Linked DNA regions of Homo sapiens: all the other regions are reported to be linked to region 1. Evidence: microRNA targets listed by miRTarBase, many of them from high-throughput screens and not tested one by one. Region 1 holds a microRNA gene; each other region holds the end of a gene's coding sequence.
What was found. Region 1 holds the annotated microRNA hsa-miR-192-5p (CUGACCUAUGAAUUGACAGCC, at 2,295-2,315, shown strand). A microRNA usually pairs through its seed, bases 2 to 8, with sites in the 3' UTR of a target mRNA and lowers its output. Matches are read on the target gene's strand: a 7mer-m8 pairs with bases 2 to 8, a 7mer-A1 pairs with bases 2 to 7 and ends in A, and an 8mer does both.

Region 2: miRTarBase lists SLC68A1 as a target of hsa-miR-192-5p. The part of its 3' UTR that is shown has no 7-base or 8-base seed match.
Region 3: the mRNA of ATXN7 is a reported target of hsa-miR-192-5p. Seed matches in the 3' UTR shown: 7mer-m8 at 1,345-1,351.
Region 4: miRTarBase lists ZNF85 as a target of hsa-miR-192-5p. The part of its 3' UTR that is shown has no 7-base or 8-base seed match.

Annotation. Positions count from the first base shown.
Region 1 is chr11:64,886,399-64,893,517 of GRCh38, reverse strand. It overlaps MIR192 (microRNA 192), which reads left to right and starts at 2,272; the gene lies at 2,272-2,381. MIR194-2HG (MIR194-2 host gene) reads left to right here and starts at 69. Exons shown (of 3, transcript NR_133640.1): 1 at 69-107; 2 at 692-928; 3 at 4,178-5,060. It overlaps MIR194-2 (microRNA 194-2), which reads left to right and starts at 2,079; the gene lies at 2,079-2,163. RefSeq lists a silencer at 5,363-5,722 and an enhancer at 5,556-6,126.
Region 2 is chr10:102,474,721-102,481,839 of GRCh38, forward strand. SLC68A1 (solute carrier family 68 member 1) reads left to right here. Exons shown (of 10, transcript NM_024789.4): 10 at 1,002-2,325. The coding sequence ends at 1,264. It overlaps ACTR1A (actin related protein 1A), which reads right to left. Exons shown (of 11, transcript NM_005736.4): 9 at 7,117-7,119; 10 at 6,412-6,452; 11 at 4,509-6,245. The coding sequence ends at 6,143. Among named protein-coding and RNA genes, the nearest start is that of SLC68A1, 17 kb to the left of the region's middle.
Region 3 is chr3:63,998,560-64,005,678 of GRCh38, forward strand. ATXN7 (ataxin 7) reads left to right here. Exons shown (of 13, transcript NM_001377405.1): 13 at 891-4,903. The coding sequence ends at 908. It overlaps PSMD6-AS2 (PSMD6 antisense RNA 2), which reads left to right and starts at 5,463. Exons shown (of 3, transcript NR_038286.1): 1 at 5,463-7,119. RefSeq lists an enhancer at 1,885-2,386.
Region 4 is chr19:20,949,616-20,956,734 of GRCh38, reverse strand. It overlaps ZNF85 (zinc finger protein 85), which reads right to left. Exons shown (of 4, transcript NM_003429.5): 4 at 6,038-7,119. The coding sequence ends at 6,433. Among named protein-coding and RNA genes, the nearest start is that of ZNF85, 30 kb to the right of the region's middle.

The sequences.
Region 1 (7,119 bases):
GGATAATCATTAACCACCACCAGGGGCTGGGTCAACGGCTCAAAAGGCCCTGGGCCCAGGGTGTCCCCACTTCCTCCTTGTGCCCCGAAGGCCAGCCCGGCACTCAGGTAAGAGGCTTCCTGAGTGGTAGGACCCCTGCCGCCCTCCCTGTCCTAGGAGGCTCCTGAACCCAGGCACCTCTCTGAAGGGTGGCCAATCCTGAGGAAGAAAGGGACCTGGACAGCCATGGGGTGGCCGGGACGAGCCCCTTCCTCTCTGTGCCTTGGTTTCCACTGTGGGATAAGGGGGCCTTAGCATCAGCGCTCAGAGCTGTGGAGCCAGGATTCCTGATCGGGCGCTGTCTCTGCCAGGCCAGGGCACTTGGACACCACGCTGCAGGAGGCTGGTCTCGCCCAGGCCTCTGTGGGAAGGGCCGCCAGGCTGAGTGGAGGGCCAGCCACCAGCTACGGTGTCTTCCTTCGCAGGTCTGTCCCCCCAGGCAGAAGGATTCCAGCCCAGGGATCCCCCATCCCACCCTGACTGCATCCTGAGAAGGGGGGACGCCACTTCGGGAAGGTTGTTGGGGCAGCACAGGCCCTGGGGCCCTGCTCTGTGACCTTGGGCGGCCCCCTCTGTCTCTCTAGGCCTGTATGCACCACTGGCAAAGGGGGCAGGGCCCAAGTCTACTCTAAAAGCTCCCCTTTCTCTCCAGAAGCTTTGGAGTCTCCCAAAATGCCTGCTGGGTCTCTGCAGGACTGGCACCTGTCACCGGAACCTGTCTGGGAGGGACGAGAACACGCTTTGCAAGAGGAAGCTCTGCCTCACAGAGCCCTGGGCTCACTCAGGGACCCTGGCCAGCAGCTGCTTCCTCTCCCCACAGCGGAGAGAGACCCAAGGGTCCCAGGGCGGATGCTTCCCACCAGGCCAGCCCAGCGTGCAGGGTGGCCTCGTAAGTCCTGATTGACATATGGACAGTGGTTCAGAGAGGTTACGCTACTTGCTCAAGGTCACCCAGCTCCCAGGCCCCTGCTGTCTTCCAGGCCACTGAGGTCCTAAGCGTCCTTCCAGGCGAGCCACTGCTCACAGCCTGTTCCTCATGTTCTGCGGCAGGTTTGTGTATCTACATCTTTTCCAGTTCCCTGTCGTCCCCCTTCCTACACCTCGTCATCCACTATCCCTGTTTGTTTTCTCTGTTCCTTTCTAGTTCTCTACCTGCTCCTCTTATTTTTATTTGAGACAGGGTCTTTCTTTGTCACTGAGGCTGGAGTGCAGTGGCACAATCCCAGCTCACTGGAGCCTCGACCTCCCAGGCTCAAGTGATCCCCCGCCTCAGCCTCTTGAGTAGCTGGGACCACAGGCATGCATCACCACACCAGGCTAATTTTTTATTTTTTGTAGAGATGGGGTCTCACTGTGTTGCCCAGGCTGGTCTTGCACTCCTGGGCTCAAGAGATCCTCCCACCTTGGTCTCCCAAAGTGCTGGGATGCCAGGTGTGCACCGCCATCCTCGGCCTTACTCTTCTCTTCCTCTCTCAGCCCCTCTGCCTCACTATCCCTCTTTCTGTGCCCTCCCCCACACAGCCCCCCACACTTCTTCTTAGTCTCATCTTCAGCTTCCCATACGAGGCCATCCTCATGAAATCAGGCACTGGGAGGTCCCTGGGGACTGACAAGTGCCAGCTGTCCCTTGCTGTCTCTCTGCCCCATGGCTGCAGCAGGGAGGGTGGGCAAAGGGCAGAGGTGACAGTGGCCAAACCTGAAACTGAGGCCCAGCTCTGGTTGGGAAAGAAACAAGGAAACAAAATAACTTGGGGACAGAGGGCGTGGGGTCATCAGAGCGGGCAAAGGCTGCCCAGGAGTTGTAAATCCGAGCCGCTCCCGGCTTTATGAGGCCGATTTGGGGTTGAGCCTGGACTTTGCCCAGGAAGGAGTGCTGGCAGCACACGGGGCGCCAGGTGTGGGCCCCGGATGATAAGAAGCCTCGGTGAAAAGACCATGGACCTGGGGCCACGAAGACTGGGGAGCCCAGGTGAGTGGGCATGGGACACTCTCCAGAGCCCTGCCGAAGGCGGACGCCAGGCAGGGCCCCGGTCTCCAATTGGTTCCCGCCCCCTGTAACAGCAACTCCATGTGGAAGTGCCCACTGGTTCCAGTGGGGCTGCTGTTATCTGGGGCGAGGGCCAGTACCCACGAAGAAGGAGAGGCAGGTGCTGGCCAGCAGACCAGCCAGGACTACCGTGGCGACGCTCCCAGGCCAGATGGTGGCGGGTAGTGGAGGGCTGTCGGTGGGCTGCCGAGACCGAGTGCACAGGGCTCTGACCTATGAATTGACAGCCAGTGCTCTCGTCTCCCCTCTGGCTGCCAATTCCATAGGTCACAGGTATGTTCGCCTCAATGCCAGCCACCAGGACCTGCAGGGATAGGGGAGGGCCGGGGGTGTCCAGCAGTCAGCAGAGATCCTGCGACCCCAGTGCAGCACTCATGGTCCCACCTCCCTCTGTCTCATTCCCCGTGAATGAGCCTGAACAGCTTCAGTCCTGCCCCTGCCCTGCCTGCCCTGTGGCACCTCTATGCTTTGCCCATGCTGTTCCCTTGGGCTGCAATACTCTTCCTAGCTTATTTGCCAGGCTCACTCTTACTAACCCTTTCAAGCTCTGTCCAAGCATTTGCTGCCTCCAGAAGGCCTTATTGAAGCTTCTAAGTCCCCACCTGGGCACCCCCACACAGTGCTGCCGCAGAGCACTGCCCTCTCGGAGCCCCGGTGCTGGTTTCTGCTTATGTCTCGCTCCTCTCCCCATCTGTGAGCTCAGTTCCCAGCCCAGGCGCGTGCCCAATAAATGTTTGCTGAACCAATCCTGAGCCTCTGTCTTGCACCCTGAGGAAGCACCCACCGACATGCAGTGTGGCCAAGGGGGGCTGAGTGCTCTAGGCCCAGTGTTTGTGCTGGAGCCCCCCCACCCAGGATGGGGCCCTGAGCCAGCCTCCCCATCTGCTTCCTACTCTCCCCTCCTTTGCCAGTCTCATCTCCCTGGAGCACAGCCCTGTGGTTGGTGGAGCAGCTTCTCCAGCCCCTAGGATTCCTAAGAGGGCCCAGGACCCCAGCTGCTGGTAGAGGAAGAGCAGCCAACCCAGGACAGGACAGCTGACCCCACCCCTGTCCCGCCTCCCACAACAGCCTCATTTCCACCTATTTCTTTGTGGTGTTTGTTTGTTTGTTTTGAGACAGAGTCTTGCTCTGTTGCCCAGGCTGGAATGCAACAGGCTTCCTCCCAGGAGGAAGCCTCCCCTCCTGGCATGATCTCAGCTCACTGCAACCTCTGCCTCCTGGGTTCAAGCGATTCTCCTGCCTCAGCCTCCCAAATAGCTGAGATTACAGGCATGCACCACCATGCCCAGCTAATTTTTGTGTTTTTAGTAGAGACTGGGTTTCACCATGTTGGCCAGGCTGGTCTCGAACTCCTGACCTCAGATAATCTGCCCACCTCGGCCTCCCAGAGTGCCGGGATTATAGGTGTGAGCCACCGCGCCCAGCCCCACCTGTTTCTTATACAACGGGGTTCTGAGGAAATTTTCCTTTTTTTTTTTTTTTTTTTTTGAGACAGGGTCTTGCTCGCTTTGTCACCCAGGCTGGAGCGCAGTGGTACAATCACAGCTTGCTGCAGCCTCCACCTGCCAGGGCTCACACAGTCCTCCCATCTCAGCCTCCCAAATAGCTGTGACTACAGGCACGTGCCACCATGCCTGGTTAATTTTTGTATTTTTCGTAGAGATGGGGTTTCACCATGTTGCCCAGGCTGGTCTCAAATTCCTGGCCTCAAGCAGTCCTGCCTCAGCCCCCCAAACTGCTGGGATTACAGGCATGAGCCACTGTGCCCTGTCAGAATTTTTCATTTGAATAAAAAGGTTTCTGGTACTACAAAATAAAATTTGTAAAATGGGAAATAGAGACCTAGGAATAAATGTCAAATTGCTTAATAACAGGCGTTGGCTATTGAGCCCTTTCTGTCTGCTGGGCACGCACATCCAGGACCTGGTCCTCCTGGCATCCATCATGAACCTGTTTGGGACAGGAGGACACAGGCTCAGAGAGGGTGCACATTTGCTGAAGTCACAGAGCAAGTTGGACCTTCTCCTGGGGACTGTAGGCAGCCAACAAACATCTGGCCCCTAAGACACTGTCTCTCTCCCCTTCCCACAGGCAGCTCTGCTCACACTGTCCTGGCTGCTCTGAATCCCTGGGCCCCGATTGGCCCCTGCCGTGGCCCAGCTCAGCAACCCCTCCCTGCAGACCATCCCATGACTCTGCAGGCGCTGCTCCCCTCTCTGCCCACACCCCGGCTTCGTGGGCCTCTCCCGCCACCCTTATCTCATTCCCTACAGAGTTAAGGAGCCCTGTGTGCTTATCTAATCCTGTGCTAGTTTCAGACTCCTTGAGGGCAAGGTCCATGACTTACTCATCCTCCCTGGCTGCTTCCCCCACCCACCAGCATAGTAGGTGTTCAGGATACATGGGCTGGATGGTAGGGCCCTGGACTCTAACCCTCTTGGGGCTGTCAGGCCTCAGACTCAGAGCACTGGCATAGGGTGAAAGGGGAGCAGACAGCAGCCACCCTGCCCTGGGGGTCCTCCTGCATCTGCCTCTGCAGAGCACTGCGATCCCACAAAGGCCTGCGAGGGCTATTGGAGACCTGTTCCAATGCATGAGCAAGGCGGATCCAGCACCCTCCCCCAGCTCCTTGAGCCCACTGACCTGTGTCCTTTACCCAGCAGGCCCTGGGCCCATGCACATTTCCCTGGCCTGGGTCTCACCTCCAACCCCTCTCAGAACTCCTCAAGACCTGCCCAAGGGTCACTCCCTCGCGGACACCTGCCTGGCCCCCCGCCCCGCCCCCCATTACCCCACTCACTGGCTCCCTGGATGCTCTGTGGCTGGGATGTTAGCGCCCCCATCATGCCCCATCACCCACACCGGGCTATTTCCCCCACCAGCCTGAAAGCCCCCAGGAGTGGCGGCCACTGACTTTTTTCCTGTAGCCTCAGACTCAAAGGAGGCACTTAATAAATGCACACAGAAGGACTGACCTTGTGCATGAGCAAAGTTGCTTAGGGAGGGAGCCTAGACACAGTGGGGCGGTCAGCACAGAGCTGGCGGTGGGAGGCCTCAGTAGTATTGTCTTTGTCCCATCGTCCACACCACACGTGTGTGAAACGCTACGCTGACAGAGGCCCTGAGAGGTTGTGCAGATTGACCGTACGCCAGCCTCAGAGAGAGAAGGCCCAGGCGGGGAGGAGTAAAGCCTCCCTGGGAGAGGTGAGTGTGAGGTCGGCGTTTGCTGAGGTGAACCCCAGAAACAGGTCGTGATCACTGGAGGAGGAAGGAATGCCAGGGGCAAAGATGCAGAAACCGGACGGAGGCGCGGGGCGGGCGGGGACAGCTTCCTCTTCTGCAAGGCTTACTCCCGGTGGCCACCACTAGGGGGCGCCCCGGGCACCCCTCCCAAGCGGGGCGGGGCCAACCCTCCCCACCGCGCGGCTCCCAAGGCCTGGGGGAGCAGCCCCTGGGTTCGCCTTCCCCGGGCCGCCTAGAACTGCGCCTGGCCTGGCCAGGACACTGTCCTGGGCCTAGGGCACAGCCCAGGTGCCAGCGTCCTACACACAGTTGCGGGTCCCAGGCGCGCACTGCCTTACCCAAGGTGGCCCTGGTGGGGCTCTTCCCGCTGTGGTGTGTATAAAACATCACTGTATAATGTATATTCATAGAATTCACAATGAGTCCCCATGTAACAACCTGCAGAGCCCCCAAATATGCCCTTCCAGGTCCCCCCCGCCCATGGTCAGCACAGTTCTGAGTGTTAAGGTAATCACTTCCTCTCCTTTCTCTGGGATTTACTACCCCGTACACTTTCCCAAACAGTCTGCGAGCATTTTGTCTGGCTTTCTTGTTATTAATGTAAATGGAATCACGGTGCCGTGTCTGGCTGAGTCTCATGCAGTTGATGGAGCCGAAGCTTCTTCACTCTTGTTCACTGCTGTATAGTGAAGAGAACACTTGGGGTTATTATGAGCGCTGTTATTATGAGCACTGTTGGGATTATAATGAGTATTGTAATGCACAGATTCTACTGCAGGGTGCTTCTCCAGCAGGGGCTGTCAGGTCATGGAGTGGTGGACCTAACACTGGACCAGGCCACATGGTGTGCCTAATAAAGGACAGCTGGGTACAGGCCTTTTTTTGATTTTGTTTTTCTTTTTTTTTTTGAGACGGAGTCTCATTCTGTTGCCCAGGAATGCAGTGGCTTGATCTCAGCTCACTGCAAGCTCTGCCTCCCGGGTTCAAACGATTCTCCCGCCTCAGCCTCCCGAGTAGCGGGGATTACAGGCACCCACCACCATGCCCAGCTAATTTTTGTATTTTAGTAGAGATGGGGTTTCACCATGTTGGCCAGGCTGGTCTTGAGCTCCTAATCCCAGGGGATCTGCCCACCTCGGCCTCTCAAAGTTCTGAGATTACAGGCGTGAGCCACCGTGCCCGGCTGTCTTTCTGTTTTTCTTTTTGACAATGATGACAGCTTCAGAAAAGTTGCAAGAAAAGTACGAACAACATCCATATACTGTTTATTTTGATTCATTGACAGTTAACACTTTGCAATTATATATATATACACATATTTATATATATACATATATATACACATATTTATATATATACATATATATACACATATTTATATATATACATATATATACACATATTTATATATATATACATATATATATATACACATATTTATATATATATACATATATATACACATATTTATATATATATATACATATATATACATATTTATATATATATATATACACATATATATATATTTTTTGAGACGGAGTTTCTCTCTTATTGCCCAGGCTGGAGTGCAATAGCGCTCACTGCAACCTCCGCCTCCCAGGTTCAAGCAATTCTCCTGCCTCAGCCTCCCGAGTAGCTGGGATTACAGGCATGCGCCACCACACCTGGCTAATTTTTGTATTTTTAGTAGAGACGGGGTTTCTCCATGTTGGTCAGGGTGTTCTCGAACTCCCGACCTCAGGTGATCTGCCCGCCTCGGCCTCCCAAAGTGCTGGGATTACAGGCAT
Region 2 (7,119 bases), not on the chromosome of region 1:
CACTGCAGCCTCGACCTCCCAGGTTCAAGTGAGCCTGCCACCTAGCCTCCCAAGTAGTTGGGACCACAGGCGTATGCCACCATGCCTGGGTAACTTTTTGTATTTTATGTAGAGATGGGGTTTTGCCAGGTTGCCCAGGCTGGTCTCAAACTCCTGAGCTCAGGTGATCCACCCACCTTGGCCTCCCAAAGTGCTGGGATTACAGGCATGAGCCACCACGCCCGGCCAGGGAGGGTTTTAAACAGGGAAGTGACGTAGTGTGATTGACTTTTTAACAAAATTCACTCTGGGCTGGGTGAGGTGGCTCACACCTGTAATCCCAGCACTTTGGGAGGCTGAGGAGGGCAGATCACCTGAGGTCAGGAGTTTGAGACCAGCCTGGTCAACATATAGTGAAACCCCCGCCTCTACTAAAAAATACAAAAATTAGCTGGGTGTGGTGGCGCATGCCTGTAGCCCCAGCTATTTGGGAAGCTGAGGCAGGAGAATCGCTTGAAACTGGGAGGCCGAGGTTGCAGTGAGTGGAGATCGTGCTACTTCACTCCAGCCTAGGTGACAGAGCGAGACTCCCTCTTTCCAAAAAAAAAAAAGTTCACTCTGGCTGCCATATGGACAGCAGATCATAGGGAGGCCAGAATGGGGACAGCAGGGACATCTTTGGGAGACTGGCAGAGGCCGTGGAGACTTGGGCCAGGGTGGTGGCAGGTGGGATACGTTTTGGAGTTGGGGGGAGATGAAGGATTGGGTGTTGGGGAGTGATGGCGTGAAACCAACCAGGGAACTGAGGAGGACTTTGAGGTTTTGGGCCTGAGTTATTGGGTGGATGGTGGTGCCCGTCACTGAGATGGGAAGAGTAGGAGAGGAGTGGGTTTGGAGGAATCAGGAGTTGTGGTCTGGACACGTCCATGTGGTGTCTGAGATGTCACACCATAGACTTGGAGGGCACCAAGGCTTGGAGGACAGTGGGCTGACCATGGTCTTTCTGTGCTCTCTTGTCCTAGGTCATGACCTCTTCCAGCAGTCCCTCATAACCCCTGTGGGGAGTGCCCATCCCTGGCCAGAGCCCCCAGCTCCAGCCCCTGCACAGGCCCCGACGCTCCGCCAGGGCTGCTTCTACCTGCTGGTGCTGGTGCCCATCACCTGTGCTCTGCTGCAGCTCTTCACCTGGTCCCAGTTCACGCTGCATGGGAGACGCCTGCACATGGTCAAGGCCCAGCGCCAGAACCTGTCACAGGCCCAAACCCTGGATGTTAAGATGGTGTGAGAGCTGTGGCAAGGTCACCCCACTGAGGATGCTGCTGGCAGCCTGGGGAAGGAGCCAGTTTTTTTTGGTTTTTTTTTTAAGGATTTCATAGTTTTTTTTTTTTTTTTTTGGAGCTGTTGCCCAAAAAAATGGATCTGTTGCAGTGGTGCAATCTGGGCTCACTGAAACCACCACCCAGGTTCAAGCAATTATCCTGCCTCAGCCTCCCGAGTAGGTGGGATTATAGGAGCGTGCCACCATGCCCGGCTACTTTTTGTATTTTTAGTAGAGACAGGGTTTCATCATGTTGGCCAGGCTAGTCTCAAACCCCTGACCTTAGGTGATCAGCCCGCCTCGGCCTCCCAGAGTGCTGGGATTACAGGCGTGAGCCACTGTGGCCAACCTAATTTTTGTATTATTTAGTAGAGACAGGGTTTCACCACATTGGCCAGGCTGGTCTCGAACTCCTGACCTCAAGTGATCTGCCTGCCTTGGTCTCCCAAAGTGCTGGGAATACAGGCATGAGCCACCGCACTCGGCCAGGAGCTAGTTTTACCAGCACCCTGCTCCACTGCCTTCCTCTAGTGCAGCCTGGAAGACATGGCAGCGGGTAGCTCCTGGGGCTGAGCCAGAAGCATCACTGCAGTGAAAGTCTCTGCTTACCTGTCTGGCTCAGCTTGGGCAAGGGCTGGGCCATATGTGCTCAGGGACGTGCTTCTCTTGTAAGGCAGGAGGACAGAAGAGGACCAAGAAGGGAGGGGGCTGCCCTGTGGTGCACACAGGCCTGCCATGGGGCGTGGGAGCCCATCCCGCTGCCTGACTGGAGCTGGCCGCTGTGGTGGACTCAGGAACCACTTTTAATACTGCAACTGCTCCCTTTTGCCCAGTCAGGGAAAGCTGACTGTAAGTCCCACCTCCCACTCCGTCCACCCTTCTAGTGGTTTCTCTGAGAGGTTTCTCTGCTTCAGCTGTGCTTGAAGTGGCATGCCTCCTCTGCTGCAGGGCTCCCCCACCCCCACACGGCCTCTAAAGATGTTTATTTCCTTATAGACTGATTAAAGTCAGCCATTCTTTTTCCTCAAGTCTGTGCTGTGTGAGTGAGTGGTGGGTTGCTGGGGTTGAGAACCAGGATTCCTTACTGACTAGAAAAAGCCCCTGAGAGCATTTTTCTGAATAAGAGTGGTAGGTAGGCCGGGCGCAGTGGCTCATGCCTGTAATCCCAGCACTTTGGGAAGCCGAGGTGGGTGGATCACCTGAGGTCTGGAGTTTGAGACCAGCCTGAGCCAACATGGCAAAACCCCATCTCTACTAAAAATACAAAAATTAGCCAGGTGTAGTGGTGTGTGCCTGTAATCCCAGCTACTTGGGAGGCTGGGGCAGGAGAATCGCTTGAACCCAGGAGGAGGAGGTTGCATTGATCGCGCCACTGCATGCACTCCAACCTGGGCGACAGAATGAGACTCCATCTCAAAGAAAAAAAAAACCCACCTTGGTGGGTTACCAAGATGCCAGGGAGAAAAACATAGATTGGTAACTGCATAGGCACTCGGGCCCAAAATGACCATTAGGCCTCAGTGCATTTCCCATGTATCACTGCTGGACATGGTAGTCAAAGAGAGAGGAGCCTCTTTTAGGCCCGAGGTTCTCAGCCTTGGGGTCCCCTGGGGAACTTAAAAAATACTGACATCTCAGTTCCATTCCTTGGGATTCTGACTTAATGTGTCTGGGGTATGGCCTGGGCAGTAGGATTTTGAACATCTCTGTAGGTGATTTTATCATGCAGCTGGCACTGAAAACCATGACTCTCAGCCACCATTTCTCAACCTTGGCACTAGCACTGGAGATATTTGGGGCCAGATTGTTCTCTGTTGTAGACATTTAGCACCCCCCACCCCACCCCACACACACACCAGTTGCGACAAACAAATACATCTCCAGGCATTGCCAGATGTGTCCTGGGAGGCAAAATTGGTTCCAATTGGGAACCACTGCTCTAGGCCAATGGTTTTTTACAGGCTGCATGGTGATTAAAAATGTAGGCTGTAGGTTCTATGGCCTGGGTTTACATTCGGGATTAAGAAAGGCCAGCGCTGGGCACGGTGGCTCACACCTGTAATCCCAGCACTTTGGGAGGCCGAGGCAGGCAGATCACCTGAGGTCAGAAGTTCGAGACTAGCTTGGCCAACATGGTCAAACCCCATCTTTATTAAAAATATGAAAATTAGCTGGGCACAGTGGCAGGCACCTGTAATCCCAGATACTTGGGAGGCTGAGGCAGGAGAATTGCTTGAACCCAGGAGGCAGAGGTTGCAGTGAGCGGAGATTGAGATTGTGCCTCTGTACTCTAGCCTGGTGACAAAGTGAGACATGATCTCAAAAAAAAAAAAAAAAAAAAAAAAAGGCAGAACTTTGGAAAATTGCTTAATCTTTCTGTGGCTCCAAATCCTTATCTGTAAAATGGACAACAAAAGCACGTATATTTTGTAAGGTTATTGGGAAGATTAAATAGTTACCATTTGGCAAAGACCTGGCAATTTTCCTCCCAAGTGCAGGTTTTAAACGGAGAAGTGATTAATCAGGATATCTGAGTATGGGCCCTGGAAACTGCACTGTAATAAGCTCCTGGCCTTCTTCTTTTTTTTTTTTTTTTTTTTGAGACAGAGTCTTACTCTGTCGCCCAGGCTGGTGCGATCTCAGCTCACTGCAACCTCTACTGCCCGGGTTCAAGCGATTCTCCTGCGTCAGCCTCCTGAGTAGCTGGGATTACAGGCGCCTGCCACCACGCCCGGCTAATTTTTGTAGTTTTTAGTAGAGACGGGATCTCACCATCTTGGCCAGGCTGGTCTTGAACTCCTGACCTTATGATGCACTTGCCTTGGCCTCCCAAAGTGCTGGGATTACAGGTGTGGCGTGAGCCACCGTGCCCGGCCAAGCTCCTGGCCTTCTTATTCACTTGACAGTTTTGAGAATCTTTGATTTCAGGGATGTTGAGAGCTGCTCCTGTCATCTGGAGTTGAGTCTCACCCATGGGCTACAGTGTACACAGGAGTGGGACCTTCTGTTCTTGAACTTAGGCTGTGGTGTGATCACCCTTTTCTCTGCATCCACCTGACAGGCTGGGACTTGGGCTATGCTCTGGACAAGGCTGGCTGGTGCAATGATGCCCTCTAGAGGATGGATCAGGCCCAGTCACCACCTCAGATTCAGTGCCTGCTGCTCTTCCTCTTTCCACTTGGCCCTGGTGACAGACAGATAGAGGCCCAGCTGACGTGTCTATCGGAACGACTTTATTTCAGTACACTGGGCCCCACCAGGCAATGTGGTTTGTGCGAGGCTGTGCGAGGGACAGGCTTGGGCTAAGAGAAGGGAGGTGAGTTGGTTAAGCGCACTGCAGTCCGCGGGGCGCTACGTTGCTTTCACACATACCTGCTGCTGTGGCCCACACCTGGCAGGGGCCTTTGGTCATAGGACGGCGTGGGGGAGAATACTGTGTGAAGTCTGGGATTGGGGTGGGTCTTGGTGTCACAGGTGAGGGTGCCGGTGAAGACAGGCTGGCCCCAGCTTTGCACCATCTAGGCTGAAGGCCTTTGGACCACTCCTAGGAGTCAGGCCTGGCTCCATTAGCTCCTGGCACTCTGGTCTGGCCCACTCCCTCCTTAACCAAGCAGGTCCAAGGTCAAGAATGGCACAAGATCAGCCCAGAGGGGGCCTTCCCACCTCTACAACCTAGTCCCCTGGTCAGCTACAGTGGCAAAAGGCAACTTGGTAAATTGCAGCTTTCTCCAGTCTTAAGGGCACTGGCTCTCCAACACCCCTCCCTTGCTTAGGGGCCTCTGCCAAAGAAAAATTTTACCTCCTGTTTCAGAAAATCTAACCAGCAACCAGCCTGTTGATTCCAGGGCAGTGAGCAAGAGGAAAAGGGAGAAAGAGCCTGGTGGGAGTGTCTTTGAGTGTAGCTTCCAATCTCAAATGGTCCTGGAACCTGTGGACACTGTCAGCTCACCATCAGCTGGGAGAGGTGGGGCCCTGGAGGCTAAGCTTAGGTGCTGTAAACATTAGTGTAGCAAGGCAGGAGGCAGCAAGCTCCCTCTCTCCAGCCCCTAACTGAACAAACACTTCAATAAATAAAACGGTTTGAAGATGGCATTGCAACAAGAACAGATGGAAAGCGAGGTCCTGGAACCAGCAGGTGCCTTAAACTCTCCCAAGGCCCCCGAAAGGGGACTGGGCTGGGAACATTAACTCTGCAGCCATTCAGAGTGAGGACTGCTCCTGCCCTCCTCCAGTGGCCGGTGTGGTCCTGTTCCCTGGTGAACATGAGGGCCTCCTGCTCTCTCCTGACTCCAGTCTCTGTAATAGCTCTTGGGGTGCTTTTCCAGCCTCCCAAACCAAAATGGCAACAAAACCAGACAGAACTCAACCCCAGTCCCAGTCCTCAGTGTGCAGTCAGGAGGCATCGATAGTGGAGGCAGCAGCTGCCTGGGGCCTCAGGGCACCCTGGGGGTGGGGGTGAGGGTGGGGCCAGCCCAGCCTAGGATGGTCAGCAGCAAGGTCTCCCGGGGGATGGCTTACCTCCCTCTGTCTCCCTGTGGTAGTAAACGGAGTCCCCCACAGCCAGCCAGAGGCCACCTGAGGAGGGAGCACAGCCTCTGCCAGCGCTCTTCCCTGTCAGGAGCCAGTTAGTGGTCAACCCCAGGCCTCAGGCCATCACCACTGCAGGTAGTTCATCGTCCTTTCTGGGCCCAGGGTCCCAGGGCCACACGGCACTCGCATGTGCACACACACTCATATCCACACACGCACTCACACACAGGCAGTTCCTCGCAAACACTCCGACTCAAGAAAGCGAGTTTTAAAGTGGAGTTAACTTCAGAGAGAGGTGAAGATGATGTCCCGACATTAGAAGGTTTTTCTGTGGATGGATCGGGCACCGTCTTCCTCATATTCCTTTTTGGAGACCCACATCTTCTTAAAGGTGTCCAGGGAGGCAAGGATGGAGCCCCTGGAGGGAGGAAACCCAGAGGAACTGTGTGAGAGAGAAGTGGCTGTGTGTGGAGCCTACCAGTCCCCTGGGGCCAAACCAAATCAGGCTTTTCTTTAGAGGGTGCTGAGGGGTTATCAGTGCCATCACTTCCTGTTCTGTTCTTACTCCTGGAAGAGCTACTCACCCAATCCACGTGGAATACAGTCTCTCCTGAGGTGCAGATATCTGCAAAGGTGGGGGAAAGAGGAATCTGAGACTTCCAGCCCTCCCGCTCCCTTTCCCTACAATGCTCCTCTTTCTGCCCATGGCAGGGGATACATTTTACACAAGCCTGAAGCTCTGGCCTCTCTGGAGGGCACTGTGGCCAGCCTGCCACTCATCTGGGGAAGCAGGTTTCCAGTCCCCACAGGTCCCAGGGAAGCTGGGACTATTGGGGGGGGCAGGGAGAAGCAGACTCCATGGCAAGAACTGTACTCCTTCCTTTAGGATCCCCGCTCTCCTCAGACAGCCAACCTCCTTCACCTATCACTAAGGTGTCAGACTGTGTGACAGGGGAGCCACCTGGGCAGGGGGCACAGCAACAGTAAGTCAGTCTCCTCTTAAGATTATAGTTTCCCTGAAAGATCACGCAGGGGGCCCTCTACCTAGTACCCTGCCTCATCTGGGTATTAGAACTGCCTGCCTTTGGTGTGAAGAGGGAGAATGAGAACTCAGCCTCCCTGTGGCTGACCTAGACCTCAGGGTCAGTGTACAGGCTGGGAACCTGGCGCTGCTTGTAGAGCCATGGCTGCTTGAAGAGCTTGGGCAAAGCTAGAGGGAAGCTACGCCAGGTGGCACTCTGTCCATGGAAGCCTAGTTCCACCCAGGCCAGGCCCCACCATGCTCCTACCCT
Region 3 (7,119 bases), not on the chromosome of region 1:
AAATCAGTTTCCACTTAAGTTTGTGTTTGAGAGAGATTTTCTCTGTGCAGAGGAATACTTTTTATTATGCTACACAAATCCTGGGGCAAGAGCAGGGGTGCTTGCTTAGAGATCAAAGGATCATTGAACCCCAAGAAGTATTGCACATTTTTATGTCTTTGTTCATTTATCGTATAGCTTTCATAAGAATCTCAAAGGGACTCGTGACCCCAAAATGCTTTAAAGAATGCTGCTGTTACAAAAGTAGGGACCTCTACTTGCTGTTCCTTGTGGAGCTGCCATTAAAACAAAAATAACTGGGCTAGTTGAAGTTTTCTAAACAAGGGGATGAAGAGTGGGACATGCTGGGAAGCCTAGGAGATGATGGGGTTGGGTAGGCACCCCCAAGAGTCTGTTCATGGCCTGTGCCACCAAAGATGTAAAAGCCCACTGTGAATGCCAGAGTTTCCTCCTCCCCAGCATGGGCACTGCCTTGAGTGCGAACTGTCACACCTGTGTGTGCTAGCCCTTGACCTTGTTCCCTTCTCAGTTAACAACCTGGAATACCTTCAAGGACACAAAAGCACTGGAATACCTTCAAGGACACAAAATCAGTAAATAAAACCAAAAGGCAAACATAAGAGCCTTTTCTCTAAGTTAGAAACCCAGGCCTGCAACTCTTCTAGCCAGTTGGCTAGAAGTGAATCTTTGCAATGATTGTGCCCAGTAGTAGTGAAGGCATTTGAAAGCTAAGAACAAAATCTATAGCTGACTGTTCCTGGTGTCACTCAGTCAATGGAGACTTTAGTAGCGTGCAGCCTTTGGAATATTCTTGTTTAGAATCAATAGAGTGCAGTGTACAAACGCTTACTTACCATTTCATTATTTCCCCACCCCCTCTTTTTTGAAAGCCAAAGGCACGTCCCTGACAGCTGAAAATAGCACGGGGAGGAATAATGCGGACACTTTTGAGGACAAGTTACACCTCCACTCAGCACTCTGGACTCCACGATGCCTTTGAGTCTGTTTTCCCAACCTCCTGTGGGCCTCAAGGGTAGAAACCTGCCGGGCTGTTGTTTTAACGAGGATTTCCCTGAAGCTATGTCTCTAGCAGTGAGTACTCATAAAGGACACTGGATCAAGTTCAGCCACCGAATTGCTTTTATCAGTGTTAAAGTGGTCTGAACTGCTTGCTACCAATCTGTGAGAAGTTTTTGTTTTTGTTTTGTTTTTTAACTTGCAGTATATCACAGAGCCACTCTTCAAGTAGATTGGCTGGGCAAAAGAATGTTTTGGCAAGAGCGTTACTGTAGACCTTTCTCCCTCCTTCCTTTTACTACCATTTTTTTTTAACACTGTCATCTGTAGGTCACTCTCCAGCAGTTAGGCACCTTAACTGGAGACCAGAAACCTTCCAGAGAACACAGGGCTGCATCCCGAGCAACCCTCTGAAGAAGGGAATTAGGCTTTAGATTTTGATAGCAATGTTCCAGGAATGAAATATAGATGTTAGCCCAAGACACCATGACAAAATAGCCCAGCCTTTTGAGAGTAATTTGGGAAAAGAAGCTGTCAGAAGTTTCTAACTTACAAACTGGTTTGAAATTTTTGATGCCCAGACAGCAAGTATAAATCATTTTGGAGGCTTACTTTTCATGATACAAAAGCAATTCTGTGTGATTTTTTTTTTTAAGAAGAAAGAAAATGCAAGCTAGTTTTGAGAAAGGAAGGCCAAATTGGGTCGGGGGAGGGTGGGAGTGAGGAAGTTAAAATCACTATAGGGAGAAAAAACTTTTTTCAAGATTTCCAAAGAGATGAAATTTTCTTAATCCTTTTAAGTTTTCATAGTAAACAGTATGGCAGATTGGGTTGGTTGTCCTACCTGGTCTATTTTTAAAAGTCACCTTTTAAAGTGACATTATTAGATACACTTAAATGTTTCCAAGGCACTCTCTACATTACCCTTGTTTTTCTCTTTGGATACTGTCCTGGGACTAAGTGTAGATTTCTGCTTCAAGCACTTCTGGCATTGTGTGTTTTTGTATGCACTCCCCTTCATGCCACTTCAGATGTTTATTTGGATGTGGTTGGGGACGAGAGCAGACACCAAGGAAAGGGAGTTGGAGAGAATGTAAGTCCTGACCTGAAGGTCTTTTGTGATGCATGTATAGGATTGCCCTGACACACACCCTCCTTTCTTGGGATTATACCAGCCATCTTCCTGAGAGTTTTGGAGCCCTCTAGGATATTTTTTCTAGTACCCCACCCCCCACCCCTAAAGAAAGACCTTAATATGTTAAAACAGCATTGCTTGGAGAAGGTGTCATTGAATTCCGGGACGAGCCGGAGCCTTTAAATGGGTGCTTCCACCACTACAGGCTCCTGACACGAGTAACAGGCACTGTTGCTTAGAAGAACACACGAAGTTGCCGAACACAGGGTAAAATTTCCAAGGCGCTGATCGTTGCCCTGGCCAGGGCCTGATGAGAGCCAGTCAGTACATTCTTTTTTTCCTACAGTTCTTGGGTTTCAAACTTCAGTTTCAGGGAATTTCAAGTCAACAACAGGTAGAATGAATAAACTTGGTTACCAGCCTAATAATGTGAATTGCTACAGAATTATTCTTATTATGTAAGAAAACAAAAACTTTATGCAGATACTTTAGCTATAAATTGATGTAAAATACTGATTTTTTTAAAGGAAGGAGAGAACAGTATCTTGTTCAATTATTATGCAATCAATCAGTAAATGTTTTTAAAATGATACTACAGGAGAGCTTAGTAAGGAGAGGGCATGGATGGGCCAGTTTGGCATAGTTGGGAGAAATCAGTCTGGTTTCCATCCCAGTCGGGGAAGAGAGAGGTGAGAGGGAATCAGAACGTACCTAGTTGATTCCTTGGTGACAAGTGCAATGGGGTATGGGTAGAATTTATTTTCAGAGCCAAGAGGACTTGATGGTTATAAATAAAGTTGCCTTTAGCAATGGAATTTACAGATCGATCATGTTGTTCCGAAAGATGTGAATAGGATCCACAATAACAAGTTGATTCAGACTAATGTAGATATTTAGATTAGCAAGTATTGAACATTTGATTTCTTAGACTGAGGTTTTAAATGAATTTCATTATTTCTCCCGGTAATACACAGAGCATCGGGATTAGGAAATTAGCCATTTTGGATTCTGTCTGCCACAAACAGACCTATTCTAAACAGTGCTATTAAATTTTAGACTGTTGTTCAAATATTTTATTTTCTCCTAAACTACTTTTTATGGTGATGAATAATTAAGACCATTTAAAACACGGGAGTACAAGTATTTTTTTGAATTAAATTAACTTGCAAAAACCAAATTTGCAGTGGTTGGGTTGTTTCTAGACAGACTTTGGTATCAATTTAAAACCAAGATAATTTTTATATTCTTTCCAATAGAATTTCATGACAACTCCTGCAGTTTTCTTAACCTACAAAAAAAAAAAAAAAGTGCTGCAATGATGAACAAAGAATTATACAAAACCTACTTTTGTATCTTTATTTTGGAATTTCTTGTTCTATTATAAATATGGAAGTATCCCTATTTCAGAAGACATATTTTGTTAAAAATGAATTGTACATATTTAAATATGTATTTTTGCACAGGTCTTTTTTTCTGATATCCTGTTTTGGTACAATTGAGATCATCTAGTATTTATTTATTAATTAATAAAAGTAAATACCTTTTTATAATTTGAAGTGGTTCACTGCCAAGCCAATAGTTCTAGAACCTGCCTCCTTTACAGTTTTAAGGGATGCCTCTGTTCTGTGAAAAGTCTTTGTCCCTTTTAGTGTCTCGGGAGTGGATTCATACAGATGAAGTGGGCATTGCTTCTTCCTGGTTGCCTGGTTTCCCGATAGACTACATGTAACTAAGTGACACACTGCTTTTCTTTTGTTAGTATTTTATGTGTGGGAGTATGTGACTGCGTGTGTGTGTGCCTGTGCGTGTGTGTGTATACTCAGCACATGTATGTTACTATGTGATGTGGTTTAAAACTAATGGAAAAAACTGAAAGTGCCTGAAACTAGTTTTAAGCTTAGACAGAATCTCTTTAAAAAGACTTGAATGTTCAGTTGAACTTTTGGAGTTTGCTTTTTCCACCTAAATATTGTTTCTAAAATTTTAGGGGCGGAGTTGAAAACCACCAATGCTGGTAATTTTATAAGGTATTTTAAAATTAAGACCTCTTGGTTCATAGTAATTCAATTGGTGATGGATTGCCTGGTGGCACCAAGGGTTACAGATCTTTTTGTCAGCCAGCAACTTACACGATGTGTCCGTTTTGTTATTCACTCATGAAATACAATTTAAAATATTTAAAATATTTTGTATTCCAAAAATATAATACAAAGAAGTACCTCTGAGAACATTGAAAAAAATGTATAATTTGAAAAATGTAACTTATAAGGGCAGCTGTCTTCCTGCAAGAGTTCTGTTGCCAAGGAATTTCTTAATGTCGCTCATTCTGTCCAGGGGGTTTGGGGCGATTGGGCTTTGAAAAAATATTCTTAAAAGTTTGTTTAGCAGAAAATAATCACTTTTACATTTTGTGCAAAACATTTTACATTTTCAGATAATTTAAATGAGCACTACATACTGTCAGTGTGAATGTAGGGCCTTGAAAGCATTTTGCTTTTTTTTTTTTTTTTTTTTTTTTGAGCTTGGTTATAAAAGCAATCTCCTGTGTTAAAAACGTGTGAATAGTTTGATAATTTGTACACATAATCAAGAGCATCTCAGCTGGACTTTGTGTTGGCTGCTGTATAGAACATGAACAAATGTCAAGGGATAGAAAATTACTTTGGATATTTAAAAGAGAAGAAATATATAGTCTATTTGTTTTGTAACAAGTTTCTGTAAATAAAATAATTTATACTATTTATAAGAAAAGGTTGTGCTTTGCTTTATAAGAAATTAGCTTGTGGAACAAACATGTTACTAAACGGGCAATAAAATTAGGACTTCTCAATAAATAAGGTTGGCTGCATGAAATATTGTACGTTTCTGCCTCGTTGTGATACTAAACCCTTTCAGTCTACTCTGACTTTTCATCACTTTTGGCATGGAACACCCTTGTGAAGCCCCTTCAATTTAGCCTTCCTCTTATATAAGCTAAATACTTCTAAGGCCTGGGGATGTTTCCATCTGGGGGCACAAAGCTTTGCTTTGGATAAATTAGTAACTGTGTAAACAGTGAACATTACTGTATTCTGGCCTTGCATGTTTGTGAAAGAAACGAGGGAGTTGATGGATTGAGAAACACATTCTATTTGTACTTAGGTGCAAATTTGATGACATGTAGTTTTGGTTTAAGATAAGCTTTTTATCCAGACCCGGTCTAATCTCTTCCTTTCTTTTACATACCTCCCTTACTGGCAATACAAGTGCATTTTAGTATTATTTGGAACACAGCATAATCATTTACCTCTAGAAATCCAGACATTTTTACTGTTTGCAAATAAACCATTCTGATAAATTATTTTTGTTGCTTAAAATAAGAGGAGGAACCGCTGTGTGTTAGCAAGAATGTCCATACCTGATATGAAAGAGTCATGTTGGCTTCAGTTCCTACTGCCCTGTGGACTTCCCATTCCCTCCTTACTTGAGTCAACCATCCACTCAGTACTTTCCACAAATCTAATAATGAGGTGCTCTCTGTAGGTAAATCCTTTCACTATGGCTTGTCCTCAAACCTCCCAAGAAAAGGTTCAACTGCTCAATCTCTTAACCTTTTTAATTCCATTCCCTTGCAGGTATCCCGGCCCTGCATAACAAGATGATCCCAACTCAAGGAAAGGGGTTTAGCAGTGTTGGATCTTGGCGTATGTGGGATTTAACCAGGCAGAAAGGCAGACAAGAGTAAGATTCTAGGCAGAGAGAGCAAATGCGTCGAGCATGGGTATGAACATGTGAGGGATAGAGAATAATTCTGCAGGAAGTTTGCTGGATGGAAGGGCCTTATAGGGTTAGAAAAGCTGGTGTCAGATTGTCAAGGACTTTGAATGTCATGGGGCTTCTCTTCCAGGAACACATGGGATCAGGCTTAGATTAACCCAAATGTAATTGTCAGAGCCCAGAGATATTTCATGGTCCAGTCCTAGCACTGTGCAGCTGCCAAAAGTCAAAGCCATTCAAATCTGTACTGAAAACTGTGGAAAAGCAAAGGAGCACTTAAGTCTCTTTCCCCATGTCTTGCATTCTCACTCTCTTTTGCTTCAAAGATCTGTCTTTACCTGCCCCTGTCCCCAGTCCTAACAAAAAGCACTCCCCTAAATCAACTCTTAAGTTCCTCTCCCTTCTCACTCCTTTCTTAGTCTCCTCTTTCTGTAAGAAGTTCTTGCTCCTGTTGTTAATGGAAGTTAATTAAAGTAGTATTTCACCTTGTAAGGCTGTAATTCTTGGCACTTGTTATCCTCATTTTCTACATCCAAAGACCATGGACCAGAATATCTCTTAGGAGGTAAGGGAGAGTGAGGCTATCAGCCAAAGAAAAAGTCTCCAGGGGGAAGGGGAGAATCACTTATAATTTAATACTTTGTGGAAAAAACATCTCTGCCACCTATGGCCCTCCAATAACAATGGAAGACAGAATCAACAGGTGAGAACCTTGGGACAAAAATAAGTTACAAAGCTGTTGTAATCCAGGTAAGAGCTATTAAGTTTCCAAACGAAGGCTGACTGTGAGGATAAGTGATACTGATTTCAGAAATCTTTAAAAAGTAGAACCAACAAGCCTTGAGGTCTAACTCTGTTCAACATTAAAGGGAAGAGTGAGTCTAAGAAGACTTCAGGTTTCTAGCTTGGCCAAACCAATTGAGCTTTAAGTGAAATGTGCGATATGGTAACAGAGAAGGAAAAAGACATAACGATAGATTTGAGCTGCTGGTGGGAAATTCTGGTTTAGTGCCCAGCTGGCTGTACAGGCTGGTTGGACTTTAGGAGGGAGGTTTGAGCTGGAAAATAAAGATGGAGAGTTGTCTTTCAGTTTTAGATCATCAGTGAGGTCATAAGGGTAGATGGAGTTTACCTGGGAAAATTAAGTAGCTATTCGATTTGGCTTATTATTATGTTAAAATAATACTTCTCTAGTGAAGTACTTAATATGC
Region 4 (7,119 bases), not on the chromosome of region 1:
ATAATTTCAAAAGATTTTTTCTACAGCATGGTGGCTATAGTTCCTAATAATGTATTTGTATTTTTGAAAAGTGCTAAGACTATGTCACGTGCTCTCACCACAAAAAATGTTAACTATGTGAGGTAAAGCATTAATTACCTAGAATTAAACATTTGACAATGTATACACACTTCAAAATTCATGTTTTACAGAATAAATATTTATTTATTACAGATAATAACTGCATAAAAGACACTAAAAGGGCAGTTGTTGCTTTGGTCTCATGACTGGCCACTCTTCGAACACAGTAAACAAGTTTGTGAGCAAACTAATAGGATATGTTTCAATCCAAAAGCTGTCATGATCTCCAAGTTTTACAGAGAAAATGATCAATAAGTTGGCTACAGTTATGTGACAAAGAATAGAAACTCTAGACTGAACTTCACCCACTAAAAAAATTATATAAGACTGAGAGATTTTTTCAAATTGTAATATCAATATAAAAAAGAAATATTATTCCAAATTTTAAATCCACAGAGGTCATTTTATTATTTTACAAACTTTAACATTCACACTTAAAAATAGAAGATTCTGCACGGAAACGTTAAGTTGTGCTATATCATAGAAAATTAAATTTAAAAAATTTCACTCACCATTAGCTTTCTTAAAAATTTAATTTCTGAGATATATTTTTTAGCAAATATTTGCCACACTTTGTGTAAGATTTTTTTTCTTTTACAAGCAGAAAAAAAGAAAACTAACTGACTTATTCCTCTCACCTGTGGATACTGAATGCCTTTTATCTTAATTAACTGATCTGAAAGTTGTATTGACAAACTCTCCAGTTAAAACTAATTTTTTAGTACATTAAAAAAATACCAACTTTCTCATCAAAACCTACAAAGTACCATGTAAAATGACATGGCATAAAGACAACAATGAGAAAACCATAGATATAATACTGAAAAAGAAGGAGAAGGGCTGTGATGCATACATAGCTGGAATACACATAATAAAACAAAAGATACTTAGAAAATAAAGGAAGAAGAATTTCTCTTCAAATTCAGCAAGAGTTAGTTTTGTAGCCTGGAAAAAGTGTCTTTTTAACATGAAAAATCAATATTATTTTTTCACCATTGATATTTTCCATCTCTGACTTGAAGTTACAAACTAACTTCAGCAGGAATATTTATAGCTTGTTATGCAGCATTTGTTACACAGCAAGCACTCTCATGTTTGTTTGCTATATTTATATATAAAAACATCCTCATGACTTATAAAGCATCCTTAGTATTTACCTGAAAAAAAAATTGGCTCAATAAATAAATATAGTTATTTCAATTATAAAAAGTGAAAAGAACAACAACTAAAGCAGGTTTAAAGAGTTCTCCAATTAAAAGAACAAATGAAATGTTCTAAGAAAATAAAATATAACTTGATAGACTAATTTTGGAATTACATATAAATATTATTTTGTGTGCACTACTAAATTTTATAAAAGCATTATAATCCCTGACAAGCTCACATAATGCCTCAGAAACTATAAAAAAAATTATAAAAAAAAGAAAATTATAGGTCCAGCATGAGTATCAGGCAAGTCAAAACAAAATATTTGCATGGGAAGATTCTGAACTATAAACCATAAGATATTACAGTAATAAATTTAACACAAAGCAGACAGTATACATTTGTTTTCAGCATTTTTGAGGTATTCAGTTTTCTAGTAAACTAGTTACCTTATTATTTTTTTGAGATGAGTCTTACTCTTTCACCCAGGCTGGAGTGCAGTGGCATAATCTCAGTTCACTGCAACCTCCAAATCCTGGGTTCAAGCAATTCTCTTGTCTCAGTCTCCTGAGTAACTGGGACTAGAGGTGCACACCACCACACCCAGGTAATTTTTGTATTTTTAGTAGAGATGGGGTTTCACCATATTGGTCAGGCTGGTCTCGAACTCCTGACCTCAGGTGATCCACCCGCCTCAGCCTCCCAAAGTGATGCGATTACAGGCGTGAGCCACTGCACACAGCCAATTAGTTACCTTATTAAGATGATTTGTTTTGTGCCAATATTGCTCTTTTCTTCTGAATATAGGTACAAATTCATATTCACAAAAACACACATACTTTATAATTTTCTTACCCTTAAGGTTTATCTTTAGAGTAATATATGTGTATATTTACATCTATGTAAATAAAAATTAAGAGTCTGTATGTGTTTGCAGGCAGTAAGACCACATGTTTAAAGAAAAATATTAACAAATTTTTAAATGTTTATTCAGAATTCAGAAATGTATGGATTTTATTAATACTTCTATACAATTCTTATTATGACCATAAAACAAAATCATGACCAAAATCTTGCCACTTGCCAAAGTGGCCAGATGGAAATAGACATTCCATGCAAATTGGTTACTGTAACCAATAACAATTGCACATTTCAAAAGAACTAAATGTGTAGAATAGGTTTGTAATACAAAGGGTAATGCTGGAGGTGATGGATACTTCACTTACCCTGATGTGATTGTTACATATTATATGCCTGTATCAAAATATTCTATATATGGTATAAATATATACACATACTATGTACTCACAAAAATTTTTAAAAATAAGTTCATATAAGAAAAAAAGAATAAAAATTTAACCTACAAGAACAATATTCTTTAACCTATTTGCAGTTTAAAGCCACTGGCAAAAGAGATGTTAGTTCATTATGTTACCAACCTGCACACTGTAACCATCTTTTAACTACATTCTTGAGTACGGTAGATAGGTTAAACTTAGTGGCATCACAACGCATCGTTGAATGCACAATGATCATAATATGTTTAAAAAAGTTTAATTATAAAACTAAGTTTACATGTAGTCTGAAAATTTAAAAACGTACTGCATTTTATTACATAGAAATATAATTAGTAAAATAATATATTACTAATTTTAACTAATATTAAAAATGTTTTTCATTTACTATAATGCAGAAGAATATTACTCTAAACAACCACCTCATATATCACTCAATATTATGTTAACCACAAAGAGCCCCACCACTTAGATTTTCATCATGCATCTTACGTTTTAATGTTCTTATTCTTTTTTTTTTTTTTGGTGGTACAATGGTTATTTTTTTCTTTTTTTTTATTATACTTTAAGTTTTAGGGTACATGTGCACATTGTGCAGGTTAGTTACATATGTATACATGTGCCATGCTGGTGCGCTCCTTTTTTGTTTTTGAGATGGAGTCTCGCCCTGTCACCCAGGCTGGAGCATACGTAATAGTGTACTTCTCCTTCTCCCTCTCCCTCTCCCTCTCCCCACGGTCTCCCTCTCCCTCTCTTTCCACGGTCTCCCTCTGATGCCGAGCCGAAGCTGGACTGTACTGCTGCCATCTCGGCTCACTGCAACCTCCTTGCCTGATTCTCCTGCCTCAGCCTGCCGAGTGCCTGCGACTGAAGGCGTGCGCTGCCACGCCTGACTGGTTTTCGTATTTTTTTGGTGGAGACGGGGTTTCGCTGTGTTGGCTGGGCTGGTCTCCAGCTCCTAACCGCGAGTGATCCGCCAGCCTCGGCCTCCCAAGGTGCCAGGATTGCAGACGGAGTCTCGTTCACTCAGTGCTCAATGTTGCCCAGGCTGGAGTGCAGTGGCGTGATCTCGGCTCGCTACAACCTCCACCTCCCAGCCGCCTGCCTTGGCCTCCCAAAGTGCCGAGATTGCAGCCTCTGCCTGGCTGCCACCCCGTCTGGGAAGTGAGGCGCGGCTCTGCCTGGCCGCCCATCGTCTGGGATGTAAGGAGCCCCTCTGCTCAGCTGCCCAGTCTGGGAAGTGAGGAGCGCCTCTTCCCAGCCGCCATCCCGTCTAGGAAGTGAGGAGCGTCTCTGCCCGGCCGCCCATCGTCGGAGATGCAGGGAGTGCCTCTGCCCGGCCGCGGCCCCGTCTGGGAGGTGAGGAGCGTCTCTGCCCGGCCGCCCCGTCTGAGAAGTGAGGAGCCCCTCCGCCCGGCAGCCACCCCGTCTGGGAAGTGAGGAGTGTCTCCGCCCGGCAGCCGCCCCGTCCGGGAGGGAGGTGGGGGGCCCGCCTCCGCCTGGCCGCCGCCCCGTCCAGGAAGTTGGGTGGGGGGGCGCCTCTGCCCAGCCGCCCCTTCTGGGAAGTGAGGAGCCCCTCTGCCCGGCCGCCACCCTGTCTGGGAGGTGTACGCAACAGCTCATTGAGAACGGGCCATGATGACGATGGCGGTTTTGTCGAATAGAAAAGGGGGAAAGGTGGGGAAAAGATAGAGAAATCAGATTGTTGCTGTGTCTATGTAGAAAGAAGTAGACATGGGAGACTTCATTTTGTTCTGTACTAAGAAAAATTCTTCTGCCTTGGGATGCTGTTGATCTATGACCTTACCCCCAACCCTGTGCTCTCTGAAACATGTGCTGTGTCCACTCAGGGTTAAATGGATTAAGGGCGGTGCAAGATGTGCTTTGTTAAACAGATGCTTGAAGGCAGCATGCTCGTTAAGAGTCATCACCACTCCCTAATCTCAAGTACCCAGGGACACAAACACTGCGGAAGGCCGCAGGGTCCTCTGCCTAGGAAAACCAGAGACCTTTGTTCACTTGTTTATCTGCTGACCTTCCCTCCACTATTGTCCTATGACCCTGCCAAATCCCCCTCTGCGAGAAACACCCAAGAATGATCAATAAAAAAATAAAAAATAAAATAAATAAAGAAAAAAAAAGAATAGTATACTTTTTTTTTTTTGAGATAGAGTCCTGCTCTGTTGCCCAGGCTAGTGTGGAGTGGTGCGACCTCGGCTCACTGCAACCTCTGCCTTTTGGGTTCAAGTGATTCTCCTGCCTCAGCTTCCCGAGTAGCTGGGGTTACAGGTGCGTGCCACAGTGGACAGCTAATTTTTGTAGTTTTTAATAGATGGGGTTTCACCATATTGGCCAGGCTGGTCTCAAACTCCTGACCTCATGATCTGCCTGTCTCAGCTTCCCAAAGTGCTGGGATTATACGTATGAGCCCTGCGCCCAGCCTAATGTTCTTATTCTTTAATAGAAAAGGTCATAAATAATGACCTAAGAAAAAAAAATCTCCTATCTTTGATGTAGCAACCACTGATCACATGCTTTCACATGTGAATATAATAGCAATGAAGAAGAAAGAGCATGAAGTAATTTGAAAGTTGAATGACATGATTATTTTCTTTTCAAAAAAACCTAACTTTTTTAAGGAAAAAAGTATACTTTGAATGTAATTAAAACTCTGCAAAAAAAGTTCTACTTCTTTTAAAGTTATATACAAATAATTAATCCACCAAATTTAGTTTTGGATTATTTTCTATACTCAGCACTCTGATTTAGTGTGGTGTCTGAAGTGCCAGCACCTTAGATATTTCTACTGTGAATCCTCTGATATTTACATAAACTTAACTTTGGATTAAATATATTTTTATATCTACTGCATCTGCAAAAATATATTTTAGTATGAATCCTCTGCTGCTTTTTAAGCTGTAGTTTTTGAAAAAGTTTTTCAAAATTTGTTACATTTGCAGGGTTTTTCTCAAATATAAATCCTCTGATGTTGGCCAGGTGTGGTGGCTCATGCCTCTAATCCCAGCACTTTGGCAGGCTGAGGCAGGTGGATCACCTGAGGTCAGGAGTTTGAGACCAGCCTGAACAACATGGAGAAACCCTGTCTCTTCCAAAAATACAAAATTATCCAGGCGTGGTGGCACATGCCTGTAATCCCAGTTACTCAGGAGGCTGAAGCAAGAAAATCGGTTGAACCCGGGAGGCAGAGGTTGTGGCGAGCCGAGAATGCGCCATTGCACTCCAGCCTCGGTAACAAGAGCGAAACTCCGTCTCAAAAAGAAAAAAAAAAAAATCTGATTTTAAACAAAATTTAAGCAACTGCTTCAGGGGTTTCCTCTAGTACAAAATCTGTACAATAAGATTTGTGATACAATTAAAGGTACTACAACCCTCTTTAAATTTGCAATGTTTGTCTTCAAAATGGTTACTCTTTTTCACATTAAAGGCTTATATTTTCTGAATGCTTTTGACAGTAATTCCATTTATAATGCTTTTATTAAGTACTTTCTGATGCTGAGTAAGATGTGAGCAGATATTAACGGCTTTTCCACATTCTTTATATTTGTATACTTTTTCTCAACTAAAAATTCTTTTCTGTGCAGTAAGGTGTGAGCATAAATTAAGTTTTGCCACATTGTTTGCACTTGTAGTTTGTTCCAATATGAATTATCTTACCTAAAGTGTGACAACCATTTAAAGACTTTGCCATAGTCTTCACATTTTTAGAATTTCTCACCAGTATGATTACTTTTATAAGTCTGAGGTGTTGTCAAAATTATTGTCACATCTTTCAGGTTAGTAGTTTCTCTCCAGTATAAATTTTCTTATGTTTAGTAAGACTTGTAAATTGATTAAAGCTTTGCCATAATTTTCATATTTGTAATTTTTCTCCGGTATGAATTATCTTATGTTTAGTAAGGACTGAGGACCATTTAAAAGCTTTGTCACATTCTTCACATTTGTAAGGTTTTTCTCCAGTATGAATTCTCTTATGTTTAGTAAGGTTTGAGGACTGGTTAAAGGCTTTGCCACATTCTTCACATGTGTAGGGTTTCTCTCCAGTATGAATTTTCTTATGTTTGGTAAGTTTTGAGGATTGGTTAAAAGCTTTGCCACATTCTTCACATTTGTATGGTTTCTCTCCAGTATGAATTATCTTATGGATAGTAAGGGTTGAGGGCCATTTAAAACCTTTGCCACATTCTTCACATTTGTAAGGTTTCTCTTCTGTATGACTTTTCTTATGTCTAGTAAGATTTGAGGACTGGTTAAAAGCTTTGCCACATTTTTCACATTCATAGGGTTTCTCTCCAGTATGAATTTTCTTATGTTCAGTAAGTTTTGAGGATTGGTTAAAAGCTTTTTCACATTCTTTACATTTGTAAGGCTTCTCTCCAGTATGAATTATCTTATGTTTAGTAAGGGTTGAAGAGTGTTTAAAAGCTTTACCACATTCTTTACATTTGTAAGGTTTCTCTCCAGTATGAATTATCTTATGTGTAGTAAGGTGTGAGAAATGATTAAAGGCTTTTCCACATTTTTCACATTTGTAGGGTTT